Linked DNA regions of Homo sapiens: regions 2 and 3 are each linked to region 1. Evidence: fine-mapped expression QTL. A gene starts in region 1. Each other region holds a variant in brackets. All regions are shown on one strand. Distances are between the middles of the regions.

Region 1 (10,877 bases):
GGCCAAAGCAAGTGGATCATTTGAGGTCAGGAATTCAAGACCAGCCTGGCCAACATGGTGAAACAGTGTCTCTACCAAAAATACAAAAATTAACCAGACGTGGTGGTGCACGCCTGTAATACCAGCTACTTAGGAGGCTGAGGCACAAGAATTGCTTGAAGCCAGGAGGCAGAGTTTGCAGTGAGCCAAGATGGTGCCACTAAATTCCAGTCTGGGTGACACAGCGAGACTCCATCTAAAAAAAAAAAATTAGCCAGGCGTGATGGCATGTGCCTGTAGTCCCAGCTACTTGAGAAACTGGGGCTGGAGGATCGCTTGAGCCCAGGAGGTCGAGGCTGCAGTGAACTATGATCATGCCACTGTACTCCAGCATGGGTGACAGAGCAAGACCCTGTCCCTTTAAAAAAAAAGAAAAAAAATACAATATAGAAGAATATTTAATAACATAAGGAAGTATTTACTATATGTTAAGGAGGAAAAAGCAAATACAGAACAGCAAACAGGACAACAGTAAATTGAAAAATACATACATCTACAGTAAAAGATCTGGAATGATAATAAACAGTATTTAAAGGGTGACTAGTAATCTTTAGGTAGTGATATCAAGGGTAATTTAAATTTTGTTTCTGTGGGTCCATATTTTACAAATATTCGATAATAAACATAGAGCATTTTTTACATCAAAATATATATTAAAAGATATATAAAATATATTTTAATATATATGATATAAAAAGTGTCTATTTTTTTCTTAGACATGGGGTATTGACGAGATGCTGTCTTTTTCTTTTGTAGAGACAAAGAAGAAAAGAATATATATATATTTACATATTTTTAACATAATAATATATAACTATGCACATATATTTTATGTAATAAAAATATATAAATATTTATATATTTTTTTTCTTTTGTAGAGATGGGGTATGTTTCCCAGGCTGGTCTCAAACTCCTGGTCTCAAGTGATGGTCCTGCCTCAGCCTCCCAAAGTGCTAGGATTACAGGCATGAGCCACCGTGCCTAGCCTATATTCATTTTTAAATGTGAAATTTTAAAATTAGTTTTGAAAAGAGTTGAAATAAATTCACCTTCTATTCTAGTTGTCAAATCATAACACTTGTACTCTGAACCATGAATCAATCACATGTTGACACAAGGTACTATTTTAAGTACTATTTGATTTTAAGTAATAAGACTAACAGGAAAAAGGTAAACACACTTAAAAATCTATCAGATTTTATCATCTAAATTATCTAAGTCATTCAATAATATGTAAACAAGATAAGAATCATTCTATACCAATGAAATTACCTAATATGTAAAAAATACTTTCAAAGTTTCTCCCAGTTCTCATATGAGTATACTAAAATCTTAAACATCAAGATAAAATCTATTTTTCCCTCTCTTGCTGTTCTAACCTTAGAGCGCTTATCTGTAATCTCAATTAGACATATACAATAGCCATGTATAATAATGAACAGCTTTCGTAACAGAAGTCAAAAGGCCCAATATGAGAACCTTATCACCTACATTTTCTTCCTCCTCATCATTATTATTATTGCAGATGGGGTCTCATTGTGTTGCCCATGCTGGTCTCAAACTCCTGGGCACAAGTGATCCTCCTGCCTTGGCCTCCCAAAGTGCAGGGATTACAGGTGTGAGCCACCCTGCCCTGCCCCTCTTACATTTTCAACTCTTAGACCTGGGCAAGTTAACTTACCTCCCTAAATCTCACTTTTCCTAGCTCTAAAATAGAATAATAATATTTATCTCATAGGGTTTTTGTGAAGACTATTATATCAAAGAACACATGCTAAATGCTCAGTACAGTGCCTGAAGAATAGAAAGTACTCAATAAGTGGTGACTGTTATTAAAGTCACAATGCAATAGTTTTTAAGTCAGAAAACCTGGCAAGCCTCTGGAAAACTATATGACCCTGGGCAAGCTACTTACCCTGTATGGACCTCAGTTTCATCCTCCACAAAACATATATAAAATACCTATCTTACAGGTATGTACCAAGAATTAAACAAAACTGTATACAAAAAGCATCTTGCATATATTAGGTGCTCACTAAATTGTAACTAGCATCATTATTAGATACAAAAATAAACATTTGAGTACAGGGATTAGCAGTTTACAAAATATTTTTATGTATAAGAGTATATGTAATTTTATGAATTATTTAAATAAGTGTATTTAATTATTAAATTAGGTGTAAATTTCAGAAAAAAAGTAAAATACAGGCAATCTCTAAGCACACAAAAATAAAAGGCCTTTTTTTAGTCTCAAAGTAAAAATGTGTTCCCTATAACTGAATCTGCTTTAACATTTTTAAAGTCCAAATAAATTAAAAAGAGTTGAAAGGGGAAATATTTGTTTTTTCTGCCTCTGGAAGAAGGGGAAAAGAATTCTAAGTCCTTAGAAAGAAAATAGAGATAAAATTGTTCAATTTTTTTTAATGACTTCACATTTCTTTACACAACTAAAATGTAAGTGCCTTTAATACAAGAGCTCTTTTAAAGTTCTGATTTCCTGTACTATATATACCTTTGTGCAGAAGCAGTAAAACACTATAGTTAAAGACCACAGACTGTGGAGCCTGACTACCTTGATTCAAATTCTGGTTCCATCTAGCTGTGTGACCTTAGGCAAGTTTAAACTTCTCCCTACCTGCTTCCAACATCTGGCAAACGGAGATTCCTCTTGGGATTGCGGTAAGGATTAAATGAGTTGATACACTTAAAAATGTTCATAAGAGAGCCTAGCAAATGGACGGCACATCATAAATGTTTACCATTTTTGTTACTGATTTATTACTGCCACCTCGAAATGCTTAGATCTATGCCAACAAATATTTGCCACTTTGTGGACAATTTCAACAAATGTCTTTAACCTAAAATGAGACCTGTTTAAGAAGTACCTTAATATGGTTTCCACTGCCAGTAAAGATACAACAATTGCTGCTAGAGGGGATTTTAGGGCAAAGGTAAGTAAAGTCAACCCCTTTCCTACATCTTCTGTCACACAGAGAAGTAATATCCTTGCTTGCTTATAGAAGTTCAGAGCCAAGAGTTTTATAATTTAGGCATGGCACACACCAACCCAGCAGACACAATATTCTCCAACTCCAGCTCCATAATACTCAACTATACTCCTTCAAAGAAAAAAGCTTAGATTACTCTTCTAATACTTTACTTTAAATACAAATTATACTGCATTTGTCAATAGAATGTCATAAGGATTAAACAAGATATAGTAAGTGGAAGTGTATGAAAGTTACGTATGTATTAAATACTATTTTATGTATGTACTTGAGAAAATTGCAGCAATGTATTTCTCCAATCTCAAATTGTTGCTTTCTAACTCCAAAACTAGTGTTCTGCCCACTGCAAACCAGGGGCCAGAGTAACAAGACACAAAAGATTAAAGTTGCCATCCCACTAAATCATTTCCTGCTTGAAATGTACTTTCTTAAAATGTCTATACAACAGATAACGCGGATGGTACTTGTGTTATCCAAGCCTCAGGCCTACATCAAAAATTTAAGGAGTGACGTCCTGGAAATACGCTAATTCAAGACCAGAAAAATGTCTCTACAGTTAGATCAAACAATGCCACACCAATTCCCAACTGTCCATAATCCTAGCCTGGGTATAGAAAAAAGCTGAATAACTTCAGATCCAAGAACAAGATAGCCCAGAATATCAGAGGTCAAGTACATAGGGCCACATTTCAACTCCAACTACATGGCTGGACTGTTTATCTGGCTCACTCTCAAATTCAAAGTTGGGTTTCAGCATCAATCAGGGATATGGCCATGAATAGGCTACGCAGGCCAGATCAAACCACAGGTCACTTGGCACCCTTCATTGGGCCAGATCCTACTGAATGCCAACCCTTGACCTGGTGAATAAAATGGGAGGCTGGCAGTCATGACAGATTCTTCCAGTTGCAGCTCCATTTTGAGATTCTTCATTGATATAACCAGTGAAATCAAATTTGGATAAATGTGAAGAATTTCTCAAATACAGATGGAAAACTTACTTGAGTATGCTTCACAGATCTAGTCACTTTTTTGTTTAGTAAAATACTCAGTAAAATATATTATTCATTAATTTGTTTCGTTCATAAAATCGTTTCGGTCCTGTGAGATGGTTAGAGGGACAACTAGCACTTTTCTTCAGGATCTGCACAGATCTTAACCCTTTACTAAGCCAGTTCCTCCACTAGCATGTAAAATTGGAGTTAGATCTGCTCCTCCTTTCAAAGATAAGCCAAAGATAAATAAGATACTATGTAAGAGTATTTTCAGCATTTCAGAAGGAATTTGCTAGAGAAAAAAACACCACCAACAAAAACCTAACAATGCAACTGAATTTTTTTAACACCTAAATCAGGGATCAAGACAAAGCCGGTGTTGAAAATCAAATTCATTAAAGCCAGATGTTTCTATGTTTGAGTTTCCGGACTGGGAAACGTGTCTGTGTCCATACAAACCCATCTTCTAATGAGCCGTAATACTGAAATTCTTCGGTAACGTCCCTCCTTCCCACTCCCTATCTTTTTCAGAACTTCCAGGCATTAAAGACAACGTCTGCCAATCCTACAAGTTCTCCCCGCCTGCTAGGATTCAGATGGATTCCACAACTTTTCAGCCTTCCGTGACTTTTAACACTACTCTAGAGCTAATCACTTTTAATGACCCCACTCTGGAATAGACACTCCTCGGCTTTACACTTTGTCCCGGCAGCAATCGACTGAACTGTCCCCCGACGCCGACCACCTCGGACGACCTCAGACATTCGGGGTAGTTTGCCCGCGGGCAGGGCCCCGCCAACTCCGATTCCTGCCCCAGAGCCGTCCGCCCCCCAAGCCCTCCTCAACCTCAACCCCCAAATCCCAAGCGCAGAACCGCTGGGCTTCCGGTTCTCCTGTGCGCGCCCCGGATCCGCCACACACCTCGCCCCTTCTCCCTGGGCTCGCTCTCCGGACCCTAACCCCTTCCCGAGCGAGGCCGAGCAACGCTCTCAGCAGCTGAACTAAGACTCCGGAGGCCGCACGTCCCCCTCAGCAGGCCCCGCCTGGGCCTCTCGGCTCGGCTGCCCTCCATTGCACCCCTGGCCCAACCGTGCTGACGCGGAAGGGTGGGGCAGCACGAGCTCAAGGCCCGGCACTTACTCGGGAAGGTAGGTGGAGGAAAAGGAGCTCCACTTGTGTAGCGCGTAGGGGAGAAGCCGGCACTCGGGCGCCGCAGCGACAGCTCCGCCAGCCGCCATCTTGTCAGCACCGTAGCGGCCGCCACCGACCGCTGGCAGCGAACGGGAGGAGGGGAGGGGGCGTGGCCTGCTCTTAAAGGGGCCGCCGCCCTCCCCGGCCGCCCGCGCTCCCCGCCCCGCATCGTTACCCGAGCCCAGCGCCGGGCCAATGTCCTATCTCAGGGTTTCCCACGTCGCTCGCTCCTTGACGGCTGACCGACACTGGGTCTGAGGTGTAAGCGCTTTCCAGGCCCTTCCCTGGGGCTTGGAGGGGAATGGCGCAAAGGACTTTTCTTACAAGCAGAGGTAAGGAAAAGCCGAGATGATTACGAACAGAAACACGTTGTAGTTATGGAGCAGGAAGGGAAAATAAGAAGACCAAGTTGGAAAAGGGACGCCTGTGCGCTTTTGGAAGCCACCGCCCTCGCCAGTTTATAAGTCCTTTACGGAAACAACACTGAAGGGAGCTGGAGGGCAGTAGCTAATGTGCTGTCCTCCTGGAGTGGTCCTGGTTTTAAATGTCTTGTCCCCGCCTTCCAGAGTCAGATGGAGACAGGAAAAGGAAATGGTCCCGTGTCCTCCTACCCTGTTTGGTTTGCAGTCTGTGATGCCCTTCATTGTAAACATTTCTTGTGAGCCGCATCCTACTAATCTTGTGGCATTGGTTTGCTCGGGAATGACGTTCACCCACAGACCTGAAAAGTCCTTACAGAGTTGGGAAGCTGCGTGTCATCATTTTTTCAGTTGGCAAATCTGCCCACTTTGAACTGACATAATTGTAGCCTAAAAGTTCAGAGAGAGAGTAGTTCAGGAAAAAGACTATTCCTTCTTCTTAGAGGGAACAGCAGCCCTGAAAACTATGTGGACATCATACCAGCTTCTTACAACAAAAGGTGCACTTGGTCTAAATTATCTGGCAGCTCTAGATAACGTTCTCATCAAGTACCTGTTTGTTGTAGTTATGCATATTTATTCCTTGGCTTAGCCACTGCAGTTACCAAAGAGTATGTCGCTTATTGTCTAAGAGGTTGGACTCCTGAAAGCCTGGACAGTGTCATCATCTTCACCTGAAGAGTGGAAAAATTCAAGCAAAGAGTTTCTCAGGAAATGACCAAGTGAGTCAAAACACCTCAATAATTGTATTCTCTTCCCGTTGTAATCATTAACCTGCCGAAATTCCCTCCAGTCCTTTCCTGACTTCCTGTTTCTATAGATGGAAATTTTAATAGTGGGCTCTACTAGGATATCAAATCAAAAAAGCCAGATAGAAAGGCCAGGCCCGGCACGGTGGCTCACACCTGTAATCCCAGCACGTTGGGAGGCTGAGGTGGGTGGATCACCTGAGGTCAGGAGTTCGAAACCAGCGTGGCCAACATGGTGAAACCCCGTCTCTACTAAAAATACAAAAGTTAGCTGCGTGTGGTGACATACACCTATAATCTCAGCTACTTGGGAGGCCGAGGCACAAGAATCACTTGAACCCAGGAGGCAGAGGTTGCAGTGAGCCAAGATCACACCACTGCACTCCAGCCTGGGCAACAGAGTGAAATTCTGTCTCAGAAAAACAAATAAAATACAATAAAATAAAAAATTACATGTGCTTTCTGTGTTGCAGCAGGTTGGAAAAGCATGTGTTCCTTAAGGGAATGCTGTAACTGTAGTGACTTGGGTCGGGAGCTGCCAGAGACAGTGGGAAAGGGCCAGAGAATGTTAGCCCCAGAGATGATATAGTGGTTATCTTTGAAGAAAATAGACACTTTAAAGGGGAGGAATTAACTCACTCCAATTCCTTTGGGCCCCAGATTTTATAATTCCACTTCTTACCTTAATGTAAGTCAAGTCCTTGTTCTTTTCCAGACATAGTTCCTGAGCAATCTTTTTTAAAAACACATGTTAATTAGTTCTTCTTAAGCTTAAATCCTTTTGGTGACTTTCAATACCCTTCTAAACTGTTTAACAGAGGCCCTTCATAACCTGCCTTGATTTTTCTCTCCAGCTTCCTCACCACCACCCCCCCCCCACTTTTCTCCTTTGCGCTTTTGACATCTGCCCACTAACTAGCACACTGAATTTGTTCCCATAGAGTCCTTGTTCTCTCTAGCCTCCGGAGCTTGCTCTAAGCCAGGCATGGAATATTCTTTCCCATTCTTTACCTGGCTAACTCCAGCTCATCCTGTAGACTGTTTGGTCCTGGAAATTTTTTTGGTTTTTTTTTTTTGAGACAGAATCTCACTCTGACTCTGTCACCCAGGATGGAGTGCAGTCACATGAACATGACTCACTGCAGCCTTGACCTCCTGGGTTTAAAGGATCATGCTGCCTCAGCCTCCCATGTAGGTGGGACCACAGGCAGACATCACCACACCAAGCTACTTTTTAAATTTTTTTGTAGACACAGGGTTTCACTCTGTTGCCCAGGCTGGTCTTGAACTCCTGGGCTCAAGCGATCCTCCTGCCTCGGCCTGGCCTCCCAAAGTGCTGGGATTACAGGTATGAGCCACTGCGTCTGGCCGAAAATCTTTCTTCAACACCTGCTCTGGGATTAGGTGACAGTTTTCTTCATTTTTTTTTTCCTATGCAAGCTAACACAGGATAGGTAACATTTTTTACATTTCTCTTAGCACTCTAAGTTTCCCTCTTTATCTTAGCACACATCACAATATATTTTAATTTTCTCTTTTTTCCCCTTTCTTTCTCTCTAAATGATAGCTCCCATGAAGATAAGAGTCATACATATCTTGTTCACAGTTGTATCCTCAGTCCTGTTGATGTGTCTAGCAAATAAAGATGTTCAGTAAATATTTATCAAAGAGTGAATGAATAATGCTAAAAGAGAACTTTAATTAGAGACTTCTGAGTTGCAAAGGAAAAAAAAAATGCCAGCACTTCTCAGACTACAAACGTGTATCCCTGAGGTATAATTGCTACTCAGAAGGTAAAGACCCAGGATAGCATGGCTTTCCTGCATCACAAATTTTATAAATGGTAAAATAATTTAAAGCATTCCTATGTTAACATACAGACAGCTATATTATGATACCAAGACGAAAATTTGTTTAAATGTTAAGAAAAGAACTTTATCTGAGGAATGCAAATCCTTTTAAATTATGAGGCCCAGAGAGGCATTAAAGTGAAACAGCAATCCTGTCCTTCTCCCCCACTTTTGAACTGTGTATTTGTCTCTTGAAACTGCTTACTATTGCCACAGAAGCTAAACATTAACCTACTAATTAATGCTGCACCAGACATTATAACCCTCATCCTATAGTTTCATAATGTATAGCCAATCAGTAGCTTGATTTATTTTAATGTAAATTCTTGGTAAATAACTCAGGCACTGCCTCATCTTTCCCTTTAAAAATCCACTTGTAACTGCTGCTACTCAGAGTGTATATTCAAGGCAACCTGAATCTATGTTCCCAGGTTGCAGTCATCAAGCTTGGCCCAAATAAACTCCCAACTTATATTAATTTTGCCTCCGCTTCTTCCTTTTAGGTAAAACATCTGGAGTAAGTCAGCAGGATTCACAGTGACTCCCCCCAACCAGCTGGTGGTGTTTCTCTCTGAAAGCAGCGCTTGGTACCAGTGTGAACTCTCTTCCTTCAGAAGTCTCATCAGGTGTTTCAGATGAGTTCTCCGGAATTTGGACCTCCTACTCTTGGGTTGAAGGTCTAGACTTTATTTGGGCTGTTTTTCAAACCCTTTCTTTAAGTGTGAGGGCTTCGGTCTCTGTCTTTGGACAGAAGATTCGGGTATAGAGCTCTGCAGGGAACTGCCTTTTTTCCCTCTCTGTCTTACAGCAGAGGTGCAGGTCATGGTTTTTCTGCCTCTGCCTCAGAACCAGGGGTTTGGGTCAAGTTTTTTTCACCTCTGTCTCACAGCAGAGGTTTGAGTGAAAGAACTGGCAGTTAGGCACCAGTGGTTTCATTTTATATCGTATGTGTTTGAGATAGCAGTTGTTTACTATCACTTGAAAATTCTGAATTAGTCTTTAATTTTAACTAATTCCTGTTAGTTCCTAACTGAAATGTGTACCCCTTTTGCTCTTCCAGGTGGACGTAATACGAGGGTCTGGTCCCCCATACCTTGAGGACTCCGCTGCCATCTGACAATTACAGACAATCCAATTGTCCTCATCCTTGAGGACTCTGCTGCCATCTGACAATTAGAGACAGTCCAAAACATGCCACACTTTGATCCTAAACACATTCCTGGCTTTGGTCACTTTTGAAAAGTTCCTGAGTTATGAGAAATCAATAATAAGAGTGTTCAAAACCTGAACACTCTTTTTAGAAATACCTGCTGGAACTACATATATGATTTATGGGGTACTGTCTTGTAGTATCTGGGAAAGTAGACCCATCTAACCTGGAATGATCATAGGCAACAATGACCAAAAATGGGGATCTTTTGATATACCTAAAGTAATTTATTTGTGCACACCATTGGAAAGAGCTGGTTTTAGAACCAGACATGTAAATAAGAGACTGACTTCCACTGGCACCTAAAAACTTCTAAAAGAAATCCTGAAAGAAAAAGTCACCTTCATTCAAGAGGTAAACAAAGGGATATTTGAAACTATGTTAAAAGACTTCAGAGGCTTTCTCCCTTTCACCTCCAGACCCTCCTTTTCCTTCCAGCCCTGTGATCTGAACTCATCCCTTTCTGCCGCTTCTCTTGGCTTCCATACATCTCTTAGGCAGAGATGTTTTAAAATTTCACAATGTACACATTTCCTTCTCTCAGGGGAAATGAATTTAAATTTAGAGCAGAAGGAACAAGCAGAACAACAACAGAATGGGAATAAGACTGCTGAGACTATAAAAATGCAGATCCAACAAAATTTTTTCTCACCAGGTCTAGTGAATGACACTGTGATATGGTCTGGCTCTGTGTTCCCAACAAAATGTCATCTCGAATTGTAATCCCCACGTGTCGGGGGAGAAGCCTGGTGGGAGATGATTGGATCATGGAGGCAGTTTCCCCCATGCTGTTTTCATGATAGGGAGGGAGTTCTTACGAGATGTGATGGTTTAAAAGTGTTTGGCAGTGGCCGGGCGCGGTGGCTCACGCCTGTAATCCCAGCACTTTGGGAGGCCGAGGCGGGTGGATCATGAGGTCAGGAGATCGAGACCATCCTGGCTAACAAGGTGAAACCCCGTCTCTACTAAAAATACAAAAAATTAGCCGGGCGCGGTGGCGGGCGCCTGTAGTCCCAGCTACTCGGGAGGCTGAGGCAGGAGAATGGCGTGAACCCGGGAAGCGGAGCTTGCAGTGAGCCGAGATTGCGCCACTGCAGTCCGCAGTCCGGCCTGGGCGACAGAGCGAGACTCCGTCTCAAAAAAAAAAAAAAAAAAAAAAAAGTGTTTGGCAGTTCCCTTTCTGGCTTTCTCTCTCCTACTGCCTTGTGAAGAAGGTGCTTGCTTCTCCTTCACCTTCCACCCTGATTTTAAGTTTCCTGAGGCCTCCCCAGCCATGTAGAACTGTGAGTCAATTAAACCAATTTTATTTATAAATTATCCGGTCTCAGGTAGTTCTTTATAGCAGTGTGAGAATGAACTAATACACACTGATTTATTGACCCACTGTGAGACAGTACCCTTTAAATCTTATCATGT
Region 2 (10,877 bases), 29 kb after region 1:
TCTCAAACTCCTGGCCTCAAGAGATCCTCCCGCCTCAGCCTTCCAAAGTGCTAGGATTACTGGCATGAGTCACTGTGCCTGGTCTTCCTAATGTACTTCAGGGGACATTTTTGAGGCCTATACCTATATTGTACACATACAGCACATAGTAGGCACTCAAGAAATATTTTTTAAATTGAATCTCCTAGTTCCTCCTGAATTTCTTCTCACTAGTGTATTATTATGTTTAAATAAATAAAAGGAGTTTGCTTAGGGATCATCTATAAATCAGAAGACTAGAAAGAATTAAAGGCATGGGGCTGTTGGCCAGTTTTTTTGGTCCGTAAATATAGAAAATCACAATGGGGATATAAGAGTGAACTTGCCTCAAAATAATTCACATTGAACACTTCTCATATGAGGAAGTTACATGCATTATCTCAATTAATTTTCATAACAGCCCCACAAGTAAACTGAGACTCTTAGAGGTTGAGACTCACCAAATTCATGCATCCTTTATATCATACAATTCTCAAGTGCGTGCATTCCTAACATCACCCCAGGATTCAGAAGTCCAAGAGATGGAATCTCTGATACTTTCCTAAAACAAATGGTTCTGCCTCAATCTTATTTCTGCTCTCTCATGGTTCCGGTATTAACTCATTACAACTTTGTCATTGTTTGAGATTATTTCTTCAAGCATAACCTTGCCAAAACGAACAAACAAAAAGCAAAGAATACCAGGGTTCTGTTTGTTGAGTAAGGGGATATCCCTTTTATTTTCCAGGAGAAAGTAATTTCAGTCCTGCCCCAATGGGCCCTTTGCCCAAGACACAGGTGAACACTGAGGCTGGCTTCAGGTATGAAGCTAAGGTCTGTCTTCTCCCAGGAGGTGGCAGCAACAGCAGCTGCAGCCTCCGCCTGCTGCAGAAATCAGACAGAATTCATCCGTTTTCCTATTGGCATCCAAACCAAGAAACTCCTGGTTCCAAAGACCACTTCATCCCTTCCTTGGTTTGCAGAGCTTAGTTGGAGCTGGGGCATTGGGAGTTCAGGAGCTGGCAATAATTCCTCTTTATAAGTGCTTAGTTTTTTTTGTAAACACTTTGGTCTGGGCTGTGACCTTGAAACATGTATGAAGGAGGTTCAGGAAGTCTCTGGCCAGGGAAAAAGAGCTTCAGAAAGAAACAGTAGCTGAAACACATCCACACAAGCATAAATCTAGAGACCCCAGCGCACAGTTTGGTACCACACAAACGATACAGATTGTAGACCTGGCCTCTCAGCGACCAGCCAGCTGACCTTCTCATTGAACCTGTCAAACCATAATTTCCTCATCCACCCAGTGTGGACTAGGTCATCTTGAAGCACCTGCTAATTCTTAAATTATAAGTTACTGCACTTTTATTTTCTGGACTAATGGTTGGCCTTCACCCTTTCAGAATTTTAAAAAATCTCAGACACAACAAAGCACTACTGGTTCCAAGTTAATCCCGGTTGAGCACATATCCTGGTTTGGCAAACACTGCCAGCTGCATAGAAGGCGGGCAGGAATCCCAGGAAATGTCTGAACACCACTCAGCTATGGATGAACTGTCAACTGCTGGGGGTTGCTTTGCAAATTACCACATCTAAACGAAGCTGACAAAATGATATTTCAGAAAAGCAATTAACACTGATGCCTAGTGTATTTGGAACCAAACAGCCTTTTGGGAAGAGTGAAATTGGCTCAGAAAAAGAGTACCCCAGCGCTCCAGGTAGAAATGTTAAGTCAAGATCTTCCACACTTTTCTCCCATCACCACAAGTCAGATCGTCAGCCTGGTCTTTGTGAAGGAGACGGAAGTAGTTCCTTTCATTTTCCCCCTGCTTCCACTTGGATTGGTTAAACTTTCATCCATTTATTTAGTGAACATCTATAGGTCACCTCCCATGAGTCAGGGGCTGGGCGTACACCTGGTTATTGAGGAGCTCACAATGGAGTAGTCAGATGCTAAATGAATTAATATACATGGAGCATTCAGAAAGGGTTGGAATGTAAAATATAATAGAGGCGATAGAAATAGTATTATCTCCATAAGGCCACAGGCCAAATACCACACTTCCTAATGAACGCTATCCCTGTAGCACAATCATCTAGAAAGAATCCCATCCTCCTACAGGTATTGGCCCCTGTGGCATTGTCAATTAAACTTTTCCTATTTCACATGAAAGTTGTCATATCAGAATCCCTTCCCAGATTGGGAGTTTTGGTTCCGGAAGGCCACTCTAAATGGAAATATTGCACATGTTACCTGGCATCAAAGGATGGGGCTGGTGGGATAGCTTCTATCTCCACCTCTTCCCCTTGAAAATATCAGCACAGGTGATGGGCAGGTTAAATAAGTTTCAGTGTTACTGCAATAGAGAGAACTGGGGAATGACAGAGGTAGGAGAGCCTGGTGATAGCAAATCCTAGATAACTTCACTCCTGAAAAGAACCATATTCTGGAAGTTTGGAGAGCAGGTCAGAGGGCAAGAAAACACAGGGCTGTCCTACGTGACAAGGAATGAACTGAGCTATAGACCATAACAAACAAGCAGAAAAGAAGCAAACCATTTCTCCAGGTTCCCTGGACTGATTTCAGATTAGTCTGAAAAGGACAATTGACGTTTGCCTTCCAAGAGACACTAGATGCCCTCATAATGTTAAAATCAAGTTCAGTATTTCTCGAACATAATTTTTTAATAGAGACCTTTCTTATGTTGATGACTTCTTTTCTTCCTGCAGAGTTCCAAATAAGCCTCAAGAGGATCTCTTTCTTCCCACAGCTCCACATGCAATTCACAGCTATGCCAGTTACTACATGTATAGCACAAAGGTCGAGAACCTCTGGCCTTTGGCTGAGTTTCATCCAACTGAATGTTTAGTTCACTGATGTCATAGCCCCCAAAATAATCAGTGTTATAATGGGATTCTCTGGTGAACATATTTATAGTGAAGCCTCTGAGCAGCAGTTCTCTCCCTTGGCTTCACATGGGGAACTTTTAAAAATCCTCACCCCACATCCCAAACCAATTACATATTAGGGGTGGGGCCTAGGGATCAACTTTTCTTTTATCTACCATAGGTATCAACATTTTTGTACGTTCCTCAAAAGATGTCTATGTACAGCCAAGATTGAGACTTTCTCACGTTAAGTCTTAGGATAAGAAAAGGCAGGAAGCTGCTAGTAACTGACAGCTGAGCTCACCTCCTCCCTTTGGAATTTCTCCCGAAAAGCCAGCATGAAGAAACCAAATACTGCAATGGCAGCCAGCATAAACATCCACCTTGTAAGATTTCCATTTCTGCCTTCCCACCGTATCCATCAGGTCTACAATTAAAATGATTTGAATACCTACAGAGTTATGAACAGTGGCTAATCAGTATTTCAAAGAGAGAACCAGCAACAGGTGATGGTGGTATGAATGCCACGCTCTAGAGATTCCACATTCTTTTTTTTTCTTTTTGGTTGTTTTTTTTTTTTTGAGACAGGGTCTCACTGTGTCACCTCACACTGGAGTGCAGTGGCGTGATCTCAACTCACTGCAATCTCTTTCTCTGGAGTTCAAGCGATTCTCCTGCCTTAGCCTCTGGAGTAGCTGGGATTATTACAGGTGTGCCCCACCACACCTGGCGATTTTTTTTTTTTTTTTAACTAGAGACAGTGTTTTGCCATCTTGGCCAGGCTGGTCTTGAACTCCTGGCCTCAAGTGATCCACCTGCCTCGGCCTCCAAAAGTGCTGGGATTACAGGCATAAGCCACCACCCCCAGCCCCACATTGATCTTAAAAACAAACACAAATGCTTTTTTTTCCCACCCTCCAAACTTGTCTCTCTCCCCACTCTCCAGCCATTTTTCTCTTCCCCTTCCTCTCCCTTCCTGCCTGCCATCTCCTTCACCTGCTCTCCAACCTCGTCATTGTCATTCTTATTGCACCTATTTCTTGTATTTCTTTCTTAGCCTCTGCACCTCACTATTCCTTCTGTGTCTTATTTTCCTTTAGTCTCTATTCTCTCCCCCTTACCCACAATTACACACCTCTCTTCTCTGCTTCATCATCTTTCCCACTCCCAGCTCCTTAATTGACTATAATATGAAGCAAAAGCATTGTCAGATAGTTATAATTATTAACCCTTTTCTCGTTTGCCCCAAGAATACTCACCAGCAGCGCTTGTGGCTGCAGAGTTTACCCCGAGATAACTTTGCCACAAAATATCTTGCTTTTATTATTATTTTCACATCGCTCTAGTATATTGACTTTGGAAACAAAAGACATCATTCTGTTTATAGCATTCTATTTTTAGAGGTGGTATTTCCATTTACAAAATACAGTAATTCTCGATTGCTGAAAATGTCAAATCCTAGAAAACATAGCATTCCTATGTGCGACGTTAACATCGTTAACGAACAGTTGGCCAAAGATTCATTTGATGAATCCCATTTCTCTGAAATAGACAATTCTGATGATTCAGATGATTCTGATGTTAGTTCTGTTTAGAATTAACTCTAAGAACAGTTTTTATATTTTATTTTCACATTGAAAATCAGTCAGATTTGCTTCAGCCTCAAAGAGCATGTTTATGTAAAATTAAATGAGTGCTGGCGGCGAGCTACACTTTTTTTCTAAATGGGAAAAGGGTTAAATGAGATATTCTATTAGTTTTAAAAGCAGGTAAGTGCTGAAAATATTATATTTCTCTCTCCAAGGAGAAAAAAATCTAGCTCATAGTTAGCACTCCTTAAATCCTAACTGTAATTATTTTTCTTATAATTTCCTGTATTGGCCCCAGATTCCTTTTTTCATGTAGTTCATTGACCTTCACCAGAAAAATGGTTCTCTGTTCAATTCTGACAACAGCAGCTGACATCAATGTAAAAAGAGAAACAAGCTAAAAACAGTAGTTGAGTGTATACACCCTGAATTGAATATTCAGTTGCAAAATCATCATGATTATTATTGTAATTACAGAGAGGAGGCATTGCAATAATTGTTCAAGTGTCTTCTTGAGGAAATAACTAAAACAGGGCCAGCTGTCACAAACCACCCTACAATAATGATCCCTGTGTGTGCATCTTCAGTATTCATAGTGACCCCATAATAACAAATTTGTG[C/T]ACTCATCTAATATCCTCTTTCAAAAGTTTTAATTTTATAAACAATAGAGACAGAATCTCGCTGTTGTTGCCCAAGCTGGTCTCAAACTCCTGGCATGAAGCGCTCCTCCTACCTCGGCCTCCCAAAGTGCTAATCTGATGCCCTTAAACAACTGAAAAAATAACAAACCTATGATCAGATTCAGTATTTCGCTTGATAGTTGACCCTCGTTTCTAAATGGTGTCCATGAACAGCCTTAGAATACTAAACTACCAAACAAAAATTGCTCCATCGATTTAATAACAAACTAGAGTGGGTAGTCCAGCATTCACCTGCAACATGAGGGCAACAAATCTAGGTACAAGAGTAGAGTGGAAGCCAGGCAGATAGGTCAGCAGACAACTAACACACTTAGGAGAAACATCTACAAAGACAGGCGTGTTTTATTGACTTGAAAACTGTAAACAAACAAGATCTGTGAGAAAAGAGGGAAGGCCTTGTTTTTTGTTTACTTGTGAAATCAGCCAAAAGTATTTGAAATTTTCTCTTCCCAAGATACAGCTGTGAAATGACTAATGGAAATTGAGTGAGCCTGCACCAGGAACTGAATGTGCCACTTCACTGAGAACAAAAAAATGTTCCCCAGATAGAGGCTGTCCTCTCAGATTAATACCTTGGGTGCTTTAAAGAGGACCAGCCAGGCACAAATATGATGCATTTGTAAAGAGGAAGAATCATCCAAGCACCTTGGCAAATTTTTTTCATATCTCAGTACCTCTGAGTCATGTGCATATCTTTTTTTTTTTTCTGAGACCGAGTCTTGCTCTGTCGCCCAGGCTGGAGTGCAGTGGCGTCATCTCGGCTCACTGCAAGCTCCACCTCCTGGGTTCACGCCATTCTTCTGCCTCAGCCTCCCGAGTATCTGGGACTACAGGCGCCTGCCACCGCGCCCGGCTAATTTTTTGTATTTTTAGTAGAGACGGGGTTTCACCGTGGTCTCGATCTCCTGACCTCGTGATCCATCCGCCTCAGCCTCCCAAAGTGGTGAGATTACAGGCGTGAGCCACCGCGCCCGGCCGTCATGTGTATATCTTAACTTGCATGTTCCTGAAGAAATTCCACAAAGAGGCAAAGAAAGAGAAGGAGAAAGAAAATTTCCTATTACATTATTTTTCCCTTGCTGGGCTTTCCAATAGGAGTCTGGCTAAAGGCTGAACCTGAGCTGCTTCAAGGATGAACTTGGTAACTGCTCTGATCAAATCTTCCTAGGTTCTAAAATTCACACTTCTAGTTGCAATGGATGAGTACCATTTGCATATTCGCATCTCCAGCTAAAAACAATTTACCCTGCACACAACCTTGTCCTATTTCAAAAGTATCATAAGGAGCACTGATTGACATTTTGAAAGTTGTTCCAAGGCACAATCTGTGCATTTTTTTCCATTGTAAAAGTAATACATGACCATAATAAAAATTGTATCATCCCTCAGTAGACTTCGGGGGAGTGGTTCTAAGGCCCCTATATATACTAAAATCTACACATACTCAAGGCCTGCAGTTGTCCGTACAGAACGGGCAGATACAAAAAGTCAGCCCTCAAGATATTTGGGCTTTGTATCTGCAAATACTGTCTGTGTGTGTGTGTGTATGTACACACACACACACAGAGTATTTGTGTATATATATACACACACACATATATATATATATTTTGTTTTTTGAGACGGAGTCTCGCTCTGTCACCAGACTGGAGTGCAGTGGCGCTATCTCGGCTCACTGCAACTTCCACCTCCCGGGTTCAAGCGATTCTCCTGCCTCAGCCTCCCAAGTAGCGGGAACTACAGGCGCACGCCACCACACGTGGCTAATTTTTTATATTTTTAGTAGAGACAGGGTTTCACCGTGTTAGCTAGGCTGTTCTCAATCTCCTGTTCTCAATCTCCTCGTGATCTGCCCTCCTTGGCCTCCCAAAGTGCTGGGATTACAGGCGTGAGCCACCACGCCCAGCCTGTATATATATCTTTTTAAGAGATGAGGTCTTGGCCAGGTGCAGTGGCTCATGCCTGTAATCCCAGCACTTTGGGAGGCTGAGGCAGGTGGATGACTTGAGTCCATGAGTTCCAGATCAGCCTGGGCAACACAGTGAAACTCCATCTCTACCAAAAATACAAAAACATTAGCTGGGCATGGTGGCACCCATCTGTGGTCCCAGCTTCTTGGGAGGCTGAGGTGGAAGGATCGCTTGATCCTGGGAGGTTGAGGCTGCAGTGAGCTGAAATCATGCTACTACACTCCAGCCTGGGTGACAGAGTGAGACTTCATCTCAAAATAAATAAATACATAAAAATGAAAATAAAGAGATGGGGTCTTGCTATGTTGCTTATGCCGGTCTCAAACTCCTGGCATCAAGCAATCCTCACACTTTAGCTTCCCGAGTAATTAGGATTACAGGTGTGAGCCAACTACTGTATTTTTTTATCTGAGTTTGGTTTTAAAAAATCCAGATACAAGTGGACCCATGCAATTCAAACCCATGTTCTTCAAGGGGCAACTGTAAATTGAAACTTCAAACTGATTTAAAATGGAAGGGAAAAATCTCGTTCCCACTCTTATCACAAGGCAAGCACTGTTAATTATTTCTGGTGTATTTTTTCTATATTAAGATATATAAAATAGACTCCATTTTTACACAGAGCAAATAATATATATCATCCTATACCTTGCTTTGTTCATTTAGTAATATAGCAGAAATATTTCCATAATAGCACATGTAGATGTTTTAATCATTGGATGGGCCATAAATTTATTTGTTGCCTAACTGATGAACTTTAAATCATTTCTACTTACACTATTATTATAAACAACATTTCCATCAATATCCTTATACACATGTCATTGGGGACTTGTATGACTCTCTGTAGGATAAATTCCTTTCAATGAAATTGCTGGATCAAAATATATGTACATTTAAGATTGGGTTAATGTTCCTAAATTGTAACCGCCAAAAAAGTTGTTCCTTTATATTCATCGACAGTGTAAGTTTCACTGTAACTTTGCCAAAACTAAGTTTTATTGAATTTAAAAATTTTTGTCACTCATAGGTAAAAATGGTATCACACTGTTGTGACCTGCATTTTTCTAAGCACTAATGAAGCTAAGTATTTTTTCAAGTGTTTTTTCCTTTTTTTTTTTTTTTGGATAGGACGTTGCTCTGTTACCCAGGCTGGAGTGCAGTAGTGGAATCATTACTCACTGCAGCCTCCATCTCCCAAGCTCAAGCAGTTCTCCTGCCTCAGCCTCCCTTGAAGCTGGCACTACAGGCAAGTAACACCATGTCCAGTTAATTTATTTTATTTTTAGTAGAGACGAGGTCTTGCTGTGTTGCCCAGGCTGGTATCAGACTCCTAAGCTCAAGTGATCTTCCCACCTTGGCCCCAAAGTGTTGGGATTATAGGCGTGAACTACCACACCTGGCTTTTTGCCACTCTATTTGTATGAAATATTTGTTCCTATTCTTTATGCCTTTTTTTTTCTTTTTTCCCTCATAAAACTGTAAGATCTTTTAGTAAAATAAAGAAATAAGCACTTTTTCTGTTGGATTGCAACTTTTTCTACTGTGTCATTTGTCTTTGGCTCTATTCATGGTGTGTTCTTGTTGTTGTTGTCATTTTTATTCTTACCATATAAAGGTTTTAAATGTTTTACACAATGTGTTTATCAGCATTTATCTTTTTGGTTTCTGAGTTCTGCCTGTGTTTTAAATGTTAGCTCTTGGCTGGGCATGGTGGCTCATGCCCATAATCCCAGCACTTTGAGAGACCAAGGTGGGAGGATTGCTTGAGCCCAGGAGTTTGAGACCAGCCTGGGCAACATAGTGACACTCTGTCTTTACAAAATAAAATAAAATAAAAATAAGAGCAAAAATTAAAATTAAAAAAAATAAACCTTAGCTCTCTTGCAAAATAGGTCTCTTTGCAGTTGCCATTTTAATGCACCAGAGCTTGATTTGAATTCCCCTGTCACACGGTAGAGGTTAAGAAATTAGGTTTTTCTGTGGAAAGAGAAAACTTACAAAGGGAAAGTCATTAAGAGAAGGGAAGGCACAAGGACCCCATCCTCCCGTCGTCCTCTGGGTGACCTGCTAGCCTCACGAGATGGTTTGCGTTCCAAGGAAGGGAACTCTGTCCTTCTTTGGGTCTCTTTTTTGTATGTAGCAAGTGTGAGAGCAGCCTTATCATGAAAGGAATAATCAGATTATCTTGGCACCAGGCAGCCTGGAATTTATTGTCAGCTGTTTACCAGAGATATCTGGGAAACGCACACAAGCTGCCCAGCATCTAGACTTTGGTTCCTGTGGAATGTTACACAAGGGAAAGGAAGACAGTGGTCCCTTGGGAAGATGAGCTTGTGTACAGTTTCTCAGGCTGAGAGAAGCCCCCTTCCTCAGCCCTAGCTCTCCACACCTGGTTTGAGCTAGCTCATTTCCCAGGCAACACAAAATGAGCACTCAGATTCATTTAAAACAAGCCTCCTCCTTCTATCACGTTAGATTAATGAAGAGCCAGGCAGTAGAGATGCAATAAACTCGTTCTTTCCCCAATTTTTTATTTTGAAAATTTTCAGACCCACAAAGATGGAAGAATAGTACAAGGAATGTGCCTATATGCTTCACCTAGATTCACCAATTATTAACACTTTTTTCACTTTTGCTTTATCTCTTTCTGTAAATATACATTTTTAACCGTTGAAGCATTAGAAAGTAAGTTGAATACTTTACAGTTATTCACTTAAAATAATTCAGCATACATCTCCTAAGAATAAGGGCATTTTCCTCCATTACTACAGTTCCATTTTCAGGCCTGGGAAAATTAACAGTGATTCAATAATAACATCTTTAAGTTCAGATTCAGATTTCTTCATTCGTACCAAATGTCTTTTACATAGCCTTTGATCCAAGATATTAACAAGGTCCATACATTGCATTTGATTCCGTTTCTCTAGTCCAGTGCCCCAAGACAGACTTTTAGCAACGCTTGGAGACATTTTTGATTGTCATGACTGGGTGTGCTACTGGTATCTAGTATCTAGAGACCAGGGATGCCTGCTAAAGAGCCTGAATTCACAGGACAGCCCCCTACAACAAAGAATGACCTAGTCCCAAATGTCATTTAATACCTAAATTGAAAAACCCTGTTCTAGACTATCAAGAACCATTTCCCTACTTTATTTGCTTTTCATGACACTGACTTTTATTATTATTAATTAATGAACTTAGAGACAGGGTCTCACTCTATTGCCCAGGCTAGAGAGCAGTGGCGTGATCATAGTTCACTGCAGCCTCAAACTCCTGGTCTCAAGTGATCCTCTTGCTTCAGCCTCTGGAGTAGCTGGTACTACAGGTGCACACCACTACACCCAGCTAATTTTTTATTTTTTGTAGAGATGGTCTCACCATGTTGCCCAGGCTGGTCTGGAATTCCTGGCCTCAGGTGATCCTTCCACCTCAGTCTTCCAAAGTGTTGGACATAGGTGTGAGCCACGGTGCCCTGCCAGGCACTTACTCTTTTGTAGCATCTAGTCCAGTTGTTTTGCAGAATGTCTCTCACTATACATTTTTCTGATTGTTTCCTCATGATCAGTTTGCATTTAAACTAATGCAAAAATTACAACATAGATGACTATAACCATTAGCTATTACTGCATAACAAACTATCCCAAAATTCAGTGGCATAATATTAAGAACCATTGGCTAGGTAGTTCTGCTGCTCTGGACTGGGCTCA
Region 3 (10,877 bases), 43 kb after region 1:
GGTTTCACCATGTTGGTCAGGCTGGTCTTGAACTCCTGACCTCAAGTAATCCACCTGCCTTGGCCTCCCAAAGTGCTGGAATTACAGGTGCAACCCACCGCACCTGGCCAAGAATTGCAATTTTAAATAGCATTGTCATCATTTAAAAGACAATATTTGGGCAAAGAATAGAAAGAGGTAAGGAAATTGGTCATGTGTTCCCCTAGAAGAACAACAAACAAAAAGGCCCTTGGTCAGAAGTGTGCTTGGCCTGCTGGAGGTGCAGCAATGAGGCCAATGTGGCTGGAATGTAGTGAATGGGGGGAAATATTTTATTTACCTAACAAACACTTAAATAGCCCTTACTAGTAGCATTATTTGAAGCACATGAAAGATATTAACTAATTCTCCCAGCAAGTCTATGAAGTAGATACTGATTTTACCTTTTCCAGATGAGGAAACTGAGGTACAGGAAAGTTAAATAACTGCCCCCAAATGACACAGCAATCAAGTGATAGAGCTAGGATTGGAACTCAGGTGGTCTGTCTCTAGTGATGCATGCTGTTAAACACTAAAGTATGCTGTGCTGCTTCCTGGTAGTAAGAGATAAGAAACAAGTGGGTACTAGATCCTGTAGCTTATTAAAGTCCATTGGTAAGGATTTGCGGTTGGGGTTGTTTTTTCATTTTTTGTAGAGATGAGGTCTCGCTATGTTGGCCAGGCTGGTCTCAAACTCCTGGCCTCAAGGGATCCTCCCGCCTTGGTCTCCCAAAGTGCTGGGACCACAGGCGTGAGCCACCACACCTGGCTACTTGTAGGTTTTAATAACCATCCTTCCCCACTTCCTGCAAGTGTCATCATGTCTGCCACACCCATAAACCCCCTTCTAGGTTTCTAATAGACAGGACACCAAATTACGTAACAATTTATTCTGCCATTCCAAACAAAGCCATTTAGGCCAGGGGTGGGGACACCTGATCTAGGGCATCAGACCTATGCTCATGAGATGGTTTGTCAAGAAGGCTTTGATAGCCGGGCATGATGGACATGCCTGTAATACCAGCACTTTGGGAGGCTGAGGTGGAAGGATTGCCTGAGCCCAGGAGTTCAAGACTAGCCTGGGCAACACAGTGAGACCCCCATTTACTTCTACTTTAAAAAAATAATTTTTTTTTTTAAAAGAAGGCTCTGCCTAACCACCTGCACTTGATGGTGAACAGCCAAACTAGGCAGATTCTTTTGTTGAGTTGAATATGAAATACAAAGAGAGAGTCAGCAGTTAGAAATGGGCAGAAACTAAAAGATACACAGAGAGAAGGAAGAAAGCTGAGGTCATGTGGCAGCAAAAAGCATGCAGCAATAGAAGCTGTGAGATGAGAAAAGAATAGAAAGTACTGAACAGCAAGGGCAGTGGAGAGTCACAATACTAGCAGATAATTAGAGTGCAAAGCAACAGATACTGACTACTGAAGGGCCCACAAGATAACCCAGTTGCTAGGGCGGCACTGTGTGCTGAATCACCTTCCCACTCCTCGTTGCCAGAGTGTGGCAGAGAAGGACATGGGGCTTGTATTAGTCTTAAGCTTAGACTGAGGTAACCTGAGTATATCTCTCCGTTCTGAAAATTAAATTTTTGCTTCTTGGAATCTCTATCACTCAAGATCATGGCACAAAACTGAAGGCACATTGCGCTGGGATTTTGAAAATCATTTGATGAAATTGATATTTACAAGGATGTAGGGAGGGTGGTGGGAACTTAAGCGGATACTGAGGCACCCAAGGTCGAGTAGCAGTAGAAGTCCAGGCCTGAAGAGAAACAGTTTATCAGAGTCCAGAAAGAGCTAGAACTGTGAAGGGGCATACCTAATGCCAAACCCATGGCGCTAAAGCAGGGAGGAAAGGAGAAGAAATATCTCAACCTCTTTTGCCTCCTACCCTCTGATACTTGCTGATGCCTGCCATTGGACAAACCCAACAGTAAGCCAGAGGGCACTGGCTCCCAGGGGACGAAATCTGTGGGGTAACATCCTTGTCGGGAACAGAGTGTGGCAGAGAAGGACATGGGGCTTGTATTAATCCACTGTCACACTGCTATAATTTAAAGATACTACTGGAACCTGGGCAATTTATAAAGGAAAGAGGTTTAATTGACTCACCGTTCCACATGGCTGGGGAGGCCTCAGGAAACTTACAATCATGGCAGAAGGCAAAGGGGAAACAAGGACCTTCTTCACATGGCGTCAGGAGAGAGAAAAGTAAGAAGCAAAGGGGGAAGAGCCCCTTATAAAACCATCAGATCTCATGAGAACTCACTCACTATCACGAGAACAGCATGGGGGGAACCTCCCCCATGATCCAATCACCTCCCACTGGTCTTTCCCTAAACATGTGGGGATTATGGGGATTAAAATTCAAGATGAGATTTGGGTGGGGACACAAAGCCTAACCATATCAGGGCTATAATGGGTTGAATGATATTCTCCTCCCCCTCCCCCGCCAACAAAACATGCCCACAGCCGAATCTCTGGAACCTGGGAATATTACATTACATGGCAAAATATGTGATTAAGTTCAGGAGGACCTTATCCTGAGAGGAGGACCTTATCCTAGATCACTGTGGTAGGCCCTAAATGCAATCACATGTATCCTTATAAGAGAGAAGCAGAAACTTTAAGAGATAAAAGGAGGAGGCAATGTGACCTCAGAGGAGTGGCCACAAGCCAAGGAAGGCCTGGGGCCCCCAGACGCTGGAAGAAGCAAGGAGAAGATTCTCCCCCAGAGCTTTCAGGAGTGTGGCCTTGCCAACACTTGATTTCAGACTTCTGTCCTCCGGAACTGTGAGAAAATAAAATTCTGTTGTTTTAACCTATCCAGTTTGTAGTAATTTGTTACGGCAGTCACAGAAAACCAGGACAGGAGCCAGATGGAGAATAACCAGCACAAAACCTGTTCATCTCAGATGGGACAGGAGGATATACCTGATCACTTTAGCTGGACATTCTTTTGCCTGCCTTTTATATTCCCTTTGGTACTTTTTGTTTTGTTTTGAGACAGGGTTTCATTTCACTCTGTTACCCAGATTGGAGTGCAATGGCACGATTGTGGCTCACTGCAGCCTCAATCTTTAGGGCTCAATCGATCCTCCCATCTCAGCCTCCCAAGAAGCTGGGCCACAGGTGTGCACCACTACTTCCAGCTAATTTTTTTAAAAGTATATATGGGGCCTTGTTATGTTTCCCAGGCTGGTCTCAAACTCCTGGCCTCAAGCCATCCACCCATCTTGGCCTTCCAAAGTGCTGGGATTACAGGTGTGAGCCACCGTGCCTGGCCCATTGGGGCTCCTTTTGGGACCACTCATATGCCTCAAACTATATGCTCCTGAGTTGTAGTTCTTTTGTTATATAAATATTGTTTTATCCAAATAAGATTATGACATTCTTATTCGAAACAAGAACCTTGTCTTGTACATCTTTGTAGCCCATAAAAATCTTAGCACAGTACTTTAAACAGAGTGGACATTCTGTAATTGGTAAATGAGAAAGAAACCTTCCATTTGTCCATCTGTAAATGGAAAATAACAATTTCTACTGACTTGCCTCTCAGAGATAATGATGGCAGTGCTTCCTGGAAACAATTTTTTGTACCTGTAACAGAATGATATATCTGAAACACCCATTCCTACTGAGGCAATTCCTTGGGGGAGGAAAAAAAAACAAAGCTACATTTACTTTTAGCATGTCCTCCATTCCACGTGCAGATGAAACTGCTTGCAGATCACCCCACAAAGGAAAAGGCAGGGGATAATTAAGAAAATATAAGAGCTGAGGACTGATATCTTCTTAGGAACTTTGATTCATTCAATAAACATTTATCAAAGAACTACTATGTTAAAATATAGTCCATTGGCCAGGCGCAGTGGCTCACACCTGTAATCCCAGCACTTTGAGAGGCCAAGGCAGACAGATCACTTGAGATCAGGAGTTCGAGACCAGCCTGGCCAACATGGTGAAACCCTGTCTCTACTAAAAATACAAAATTAGTCCGGCGTGATAACGCATGCCTGTAATCCCAGCTCCTTGGGAGGTGGAGGCACGAGAATCGCTTGAACCCGGGAGACGAAGGTTGCAGTGAGACGGCGCCACTGCACTCCAGCCTGGGCGACAGAGTGAAACTGTGTCTCAAAAAAAAAAAAAAAAGTCCATAGATGCTGAGGAAACACACGCAGAGAATAAGGCATGATCCCAAGTCAGTAATTGTCACGCAATATGATGAATGGTTTTTATAAGAGCAAAATGCTATGGGGCCAGAAAAAAGGGAATGACTAACTATTGATGGGAGTTTCACCAAAAAAACTCACAATCAAGCTGGTCTCTTAAGACTGCATCAGGCAGAGGTGAAGTCAAGGGCATTCCAGGACCAAGAGAAACAGCTTTGCCTGAGCTGTTGCCAAGCAAACCACACCCTCAGCTCAGCCCTATTGTATCTACAGAGGCCTATTTTTATTCTTTATCCTCATCGCTACTTTTTAAGAGAAGAAAAGAATGCTGACTTCTTCCCTAATTTGCATCCATGTATTTTATATGCCAAAGAAAGGTGATTGTCAGGAGGGAAAATAGAAGTTGACTTTCGGCAAGTCCAATTACGACAGGTCCTCACATCCATCTGATAATAAGTTAACATGGAAACGCTTACCTTTGCTGAGCTTCTACCTCATTTCGGAAAATTGGGTTAGGCTATCCTGTGAATGCAGTACCAGGGGGAAAGTGGACAAGGTATGAGCGCATCCCGTGTCTCATTGCCCCACACCAGGAGGTTCATCTTTGGCAAACACTCCTTGAATGGGAATTATGGCTGAGGCCCTTTTTCCTCCCCTAGGCTGACCTTCACATCACTCCTCAGGGAACAACTCTGCCTAGGGCACCGCCCAGCTTCCCTCCCAGGCCAGCCCTGCTAGGCCTCTGAGACCAGAGCCGTGCTGCTTATGAGTGGAAGAAAGGAGAAAAAACTCTTAGGACAGCAGCCAGGAGAGAATGAAAGACTGGCCAAACCCACCAAGGAGCAAACGGTTCCCCATCCTCACCCTGCAGCTTCTGCTGGAAAAGCGGGGAGGCTGGGGAACCGGAATCTCAGCCTCAGAGTAC[G/A]CATCACTTATCCTTGTTTTCTCAAGAAGCCTCTACCTTCCAGGCCCTGCCAGGAAGCTGGCAGCATTTTCCTGAAGCAGTAATAACAAGGACAGAGCGTTCTAGCCTGCTGGAGCCTGCTGGCTGGTCACTCTTTCCACTGCCTTTTGTTTTCATGCATCATTCCCCTCACTTGCTTCTCAGATTCCTCAGGGCTTTGAAAAAGCCACAAATGCTCCACACAGTGACACCACCCAGCGGGCTGGCAGACATAGCTGACAGGCACCTTGCCCTAAGCGACCGCACGTATGCAAGCCCTGACAGCTGATACCCAGCCACACACCTGGTGAGAGGGAAGGCAGCACTTAGAAAGGGCCCACCCTATTCACGTAGCTGGCAAAGGTAGGGCTTTAGATCAACTACAGCCCAGTGCACTGGTAAATCACAGACCGCTTTTTTATTCAAAGTGTATCTGTATGTTGGACAGTGGTACTTCCCCACCCTTTCCTCAAACATCTAAATCCAGCCAACATAGATGCTACCAACAGAGCACCAGAGTAACCTCAGCGTGACAATCCACATATCAATATATTAGATCATATACACATGCATACTTGGAGCAGACTTAACTTTATTTGTGTTTTAGAACCACCTGTAGCCTATTTCAAACCACACTCCAGAGTGAACCTATCAGAATCTATGAAAATAGGGCTTAGATATGTGTATTTTTAAAAAACTTGACAGCGTTGGTTAGAATGTGGGACAAGACAAATTCTTGTATATCATTGATGAGATATATAACAATTGGTTCAGCTGCTGTGGACAGTAAGCTGGAAGGCAATCTAGTCAAGTCGGAAGTGCGCATATCCTATTCCCTAGCAATTTTTGTTCTAGATATATTCCCTAGAACTCTCACACATGTGTTCAAGGAGACGTACACCAGGGCATGATTTACATCATGATTTGGAATAGCAAAAAACTGGCCATAACAAATATCCACCCACAGGAGAATAGATTCTAGAACATTTACACAATGGAGCACTACATTGCAGTATTATATAATATAATGTTATGTTATATAGAATGGATTAGCTCTACAAGTACCACAGATAAATCTCCAAATCACAATGTTGAGAAAAAAAGCTACAGAAAAAAATATGTACACTATTTACATACAGGTTTAAACATGCAAAACTTGCCTATTGTGTAGTAAAACTATAAAAACATGTGGGAAGGACACTCACAGTCTTCAACAGATTGGTTACCTCTGGAGAGAGTTGAAATGAAAGGGCCTTCTCGGCCGGGCACAATGGCACACGCCTGTTATCCCAGCATTTTTGGGAGGCCAAGATGCGCAGACAGCTTCAGCCCAGGAGTTCTAGACCAGCCTGAGCAACATCATGAAACCCTGTTTCTACAAAAAATACAAAAATTAGCCAGCTGTGGTGGTGCATGCCTGTAGTCCCAGCTACTCGGGAGGCTGAGGTGGGAGGATCACCTGAGCCCAGGAGGTCAAGGCTGCAGTGAGCTGTGAGTGCACCAGTGTACTCCAGCCTGTTTTGGGCAACAGAGTGAGATGCTGTCTCAAAAAAAAAAAAAAAGAGAAGAAAGAAAGCAGTAAAGAGAGAGAGAGGAAGGAAGGAAGGAAGGAAGGAAGGAAGGAAGGAAGGAAGGAAGGAAGGAAGGAGGGGAAGGGAAGGGAAGGAGGGAGGGAGGGAGGGAGGGAGGGAAGGGCCTTCTCTTGTAACTAGAAGGTTTTATCATGGCAAGCCGTTATTATTTATTAAATCTGGATAATGAGTCCATATCCCACAGGTAACTCTGAGGGTCATGGCCATCGACAGCGGAAGGATCTTTTGAGATTCTTAGATTCTCAGTTACAGAAAATAAAAGTTTGATCTGTATAATGAGCCATCCCCATAAACATAAATGACACTGAAGAGCCCTCTCAGTAACGTATGCAGATTGAGATGCTGTTCATGAACGGAGGAGCTGTTGCACAGGCCCAATTCCCCTCCCTTACTAGGTGCCCGTGTGACCTGCTGGCCTTGTGAGCATCCTAAACAGAGTCAGAGCTGCAGTGGAATGAAGATGAGGATTGGTCCACGTGTGGAAATCATGACTATAGTCATATCCAGAAATTTCCAAACCTGGCTGAAAATCAGATAAAACTTTTAATGCAGTTGTCCATGCCCCACCATCTGAGAATATGATACAATAGGTCTGACATGAGACTCTGGAATCTGTATATTTAAAAGGCTTGCCAAGAGATTCTGATGATCGCCAGGTTTGAGAAATGATAACCAACCATGGTTATATTCTATTAATGTTTTCAAAGAAGATGGGTAGGAAGAGAAAAGGGAGAAAAGGAAATAAGAAAATTAAAGAAGGAAGGGGAGAAAGAAGGAAGGGAAGGAGGTGAGCCTTCGAACCCAGCTCAGATCCCTCCTCCTCTATTTCTCCTAGACCTCTATAGCCTCCACGTCCCTCCTCATCCCCTGAACTTGCTAGATCTCTAATCATCTGGTAACATTCATTTGGCAATTATGTACTTCCCTGTATGTTGCTGTCAAGGGCTACTGTTTAATCAATAAGTTTATGTCTTACTTTTTGAATTAGGCTATAAGCTTCTTCAGGACAAAGACCATGTTTTCTTCATCTTTCTTTTTTTTTTTTTTTTTTTTGAGACGGAGTTTCACTCTTGTTGCCCAGGCTGGAGTGCAATGGCACTATCTCGGCTCACCACAACCTCCGCCTCCCGGGTTCAAGCGATTCTCCTGCCTCAGCCTCCCAAGTAGCTGGGATTACAGGCATGCGCCACCATGCCCAGCTAATTTTGTATTTTTAGTAGAGATGAAGTTTCTCCATGTTGGTCAGGCTGGTCTCAAACTCCCAAACTCAGGTAATCCACCCGCCTTGGCCTCCCAAAGTGCTGGGATTACAGGCATGAGCCACCATGCCCAGCCCATCTTTTTATTTCTAGTGTCTAACATGATGCCTCCCACAGAGTAAGCAGTAAAGCACCATGATAAGAGTATAAGATAAAACAGGCTCAGAAATGTGGCAGTGGCTGGGCATGGTGGCTGTAATCCCAGCACTCTGGGAGGCTGAGGTGGGAGGACGCTTGAGGCCAGGAGTTCAAGGCCAGCCTGGGCAACATAGTGAGACCCCCATCTTTGCAAAAAATTTAGAAATTAGCTGAGTGTGCATGTGTAGTCCTAGCCACTCACAAGACTGAGATGGGATGATTGCTGAGCTCACAAGTTGGAGGTTGCAGTGAGCTATGATCATGCCACTGCGCTCCACCCTGGGTGACAGAGCAAGACTGTAAACAAAAAAAAAAAGAAAAGAAATATGGCAGGATACAAGATCAATAAACAAAAATCAATTGTATTTCTATACACTAGCAATGAATAATCCTGAAAAATGAAATCCAATGCAATCTCCATCAAAATCCCAACTTTTTTTTTATTTTACAGAAATTGACAAGCTGATCATGCTATTCACATGGAAATACAACCCAAAATAGCCAAAACAATCTTGAAGAGGAAGAACAAAGTTGGAAGAGGCATAGTTCCTGATTTCAAAACCTACCAGAAAACTACAGTAATCACGACATAAGGCATAAGGATACACATATAGATGAATGGAATAGACTTGAGAGACTAAAAATAAACCCTCACATTGGTATTGAATTGAATTTCTGAAGAGTGCCAAGACAATTCGATAGGGAAAGAACCGTTTTTTCAACAAATGTTGCTGGGACAACTGGATACCTGTAAAAAAATGAAGTTGAACTCTCAACACTATACAAAAAAAAAAAAGAATAACTCAAAATGGATCATAGGCCTAAATGCATGAATTAAAACTATAAAACTCCTATCAGAAAACAAGAGTAAATGTTCATGACCTTGGATTTGGCAATAGTTTCTTGGATGTCGCCAAAGCAGAAGTAACAAAAGAAAAAAATAGATAAATTGAACTTCAAAAGTAAAATCTTTTGTTCTTCAAGTAACACCATCAAGAAAGTGAAAAGACAGTCCACAGGACAGGAAAAAATCTTTGCAAATCATGTATCTGACAAGGGACTCATATCCAGAATATTTTTAAAACCCTACTACTACTCAAGAATAAAAAGACAAATGACTCAATTAAAACATGGACAAAGACAGCCTGGTCAACATAGTGAAACCCTGTCTCTACTAAAAATACAAAAAATTAGCTGGGTGTGGTGGTGTTAGCCCATAATCCCAGCTACTCTGGAGGCTGAGGCACAAGAATTGCATTAACCCGGAAGGTGGAGGTTGCTGTGAGCCAAGATTGTGCCACTGCACTCCAGCCTGGGTGACAGGGTGAGACTCTTTCCCAAAAAAGAAAAAAAAAATTAAAAGAAAAAAAAAACATGGATGAATAATTTAAATAAACATTCTGCCACAGAATATATACCAATGGCCATTATGCACATGAAAAGATACTTAACATTATTCGTCATTCAGGAAATGCAAGTCAAAATCACAGTGAGACATCTCTTCACACCACAAGGATGGCTATAATAACAAGAACAAGTGTTGGTAAGGATCTGGAGAAACTGGAACCCTCATCTATTGCTTGTGAGCATGTGAAATGGTGGCACCACTTTGGAAAACAGTTTGGCAGTTCCTCAAAATGCTGAACATACGGTTACCAAATTACTCAGGAATTCTACTCCTAGCCATATATATACCAAGAGAAATGAAAACGTATGTCCACATGGAAACCTGTACGTGAATGCTCATAGCAGCATTATTTATAGTGGCCTAACGTGAAAACAATCCATGTCCATGAACTGAGGAATGGGTAAACAAAATGTGGTATAGCCATACAATGGAATCTTTTCAGCCAGAAAAAAGTAATAATTACTGATGATAGATGCTACAACATGGATGAACCTGGAAAACAAGTGAAGGAACCCTGTCTCAAAAGACTATATATTGTATGAATCCATTTATACCAAATGTCCAGAATAGGCAAATCCATAGAGACAGCAAGTAGATTAGTGGTTGCCTGGGGTTGGAGTGGGCTTGAGGGTGGGGAATGGGAACAAGGAATGGCTGCTGATGGGTATAGGGGTCTTTTGGGGGATGTTGAAAAGGCTGTAAAATTAGATAGTTGTGATGGTTGCACAATAGTATTAATACAGTAAAAAAACCATTGAACTATATACTTTATTTTTGTTATTATTATTTTTGAGACAGGGTCTTGCTCTGTCACCTAGGCTGGAATGCAGAGGTGCAATCATGGTTCACTGCAGTCTCCACCTTGCCAGGCTCAGGTGATCTTCCCACCTCCACCTCCCGAGTAGCTGGGACAACAGGTGTGCACCACCACACAGCTAACTTTTTTATTTTTTGTAAAGATTGGGTTTCTCTTTGTTGCCCAGGCTGGTCTTGAAGTCCTGGCCTCAAGTGATCCTCCTGACTCAGCCTCCCAAAGTGTTGGGATTACCAGTGTTAGCCACCACACCTGGACCAAACTTTACACTTTAAATGGGCAACTTTTTTTATGGTATGTGAAATAGATCTCACTAAAGCTGTAAAAGAAATAAAAATATGACCCAGTTTTGAATTCTAGTTCAATTACTGTTGCTGATCATACCAAGCTCATTCTCTCTCAGGATCTTTGCATTTGCAAAGATGCATGTCATGAGATCATTACCTCAAAACGTTGCACTACTGGCTTCACATAATTTAGGTCTTCTGAATCTCTTATCCAGTGTTGCACAATCTCCCCCTACTCCTG

Direction of the effects. Alleles are on the strand shown, and positions count from the first base shown. SD is a standard deviation of normalised expression in the study named.
In carriers of allele T in region 2, the expression in substantia nigra of the gene that starts at base 5,401 in region 1 tends to be lower than with C alone (small effect, 0.30 SD a copy in GTEx).
For the expression in thyroid of the gene that starts at base 5,401 in region 1, allele G in region 3 goes with a higher level than allele A (moderate effect, 0.51 SD a copy in GTEx).

Evidence for each region.
Region 2: its variant is fine-mapped to the expression of MKLN1-AS in substantia nigra (GTEx, PIP above 0.99).
Region 3: its variant is fine-mapped to the expression of MKLN1-AS in thyroid (GTEx, PIP 0.97).

Annotation. Positions count from the first base shown.
Region 1 is chr7:131,322,303-131,333,179 of GRCh38, reverse strand. MKLN1-AS (MKLN1 antisense RNA) reads left to right here and starts at 5,401. Exons shown (of 6, transcript NR_125364.1): 1 at 5,401-5,565; 2 at 6,245-6,374; 3 at 8,755-8,877; 4 at 9,312-9,815. MKLN1 (muskelin 1) reads right to left here and starts at 5,304. Exons shown (of 18, transcript NM_013255.5): 1 at 5,183-5,304. The coding sequence starts at 5,280. RefSeq lists enhancers at 4,386-4,962, 4,969-5,268, 4,963-5,539 and a silencer at 5,319-5,478.
Region 2 is chr7:131,293,299-131,304,175 of GRCh38, reverse strand. It overlaps a transcript of MKLN1 not described here. Among named protein-coding and RNA genes, the nearest start is that of MKLN1-AS, 29 kb to the left of the region's middle. The variant C/T (reference allele first, on the strand shown) is at 5,117.
Region 3 is chr7:131,279,256-131,290,132 of GRCh38, reverse strand. It overlaps a transcript of MKLN1 not described here. Among named protein-coding and RNA genes, the nearest start is that of MKLN1-AS, 43 kb to the left of the region's middle. The variant G/A (reference allele first, on the strand shown) is at 5,121.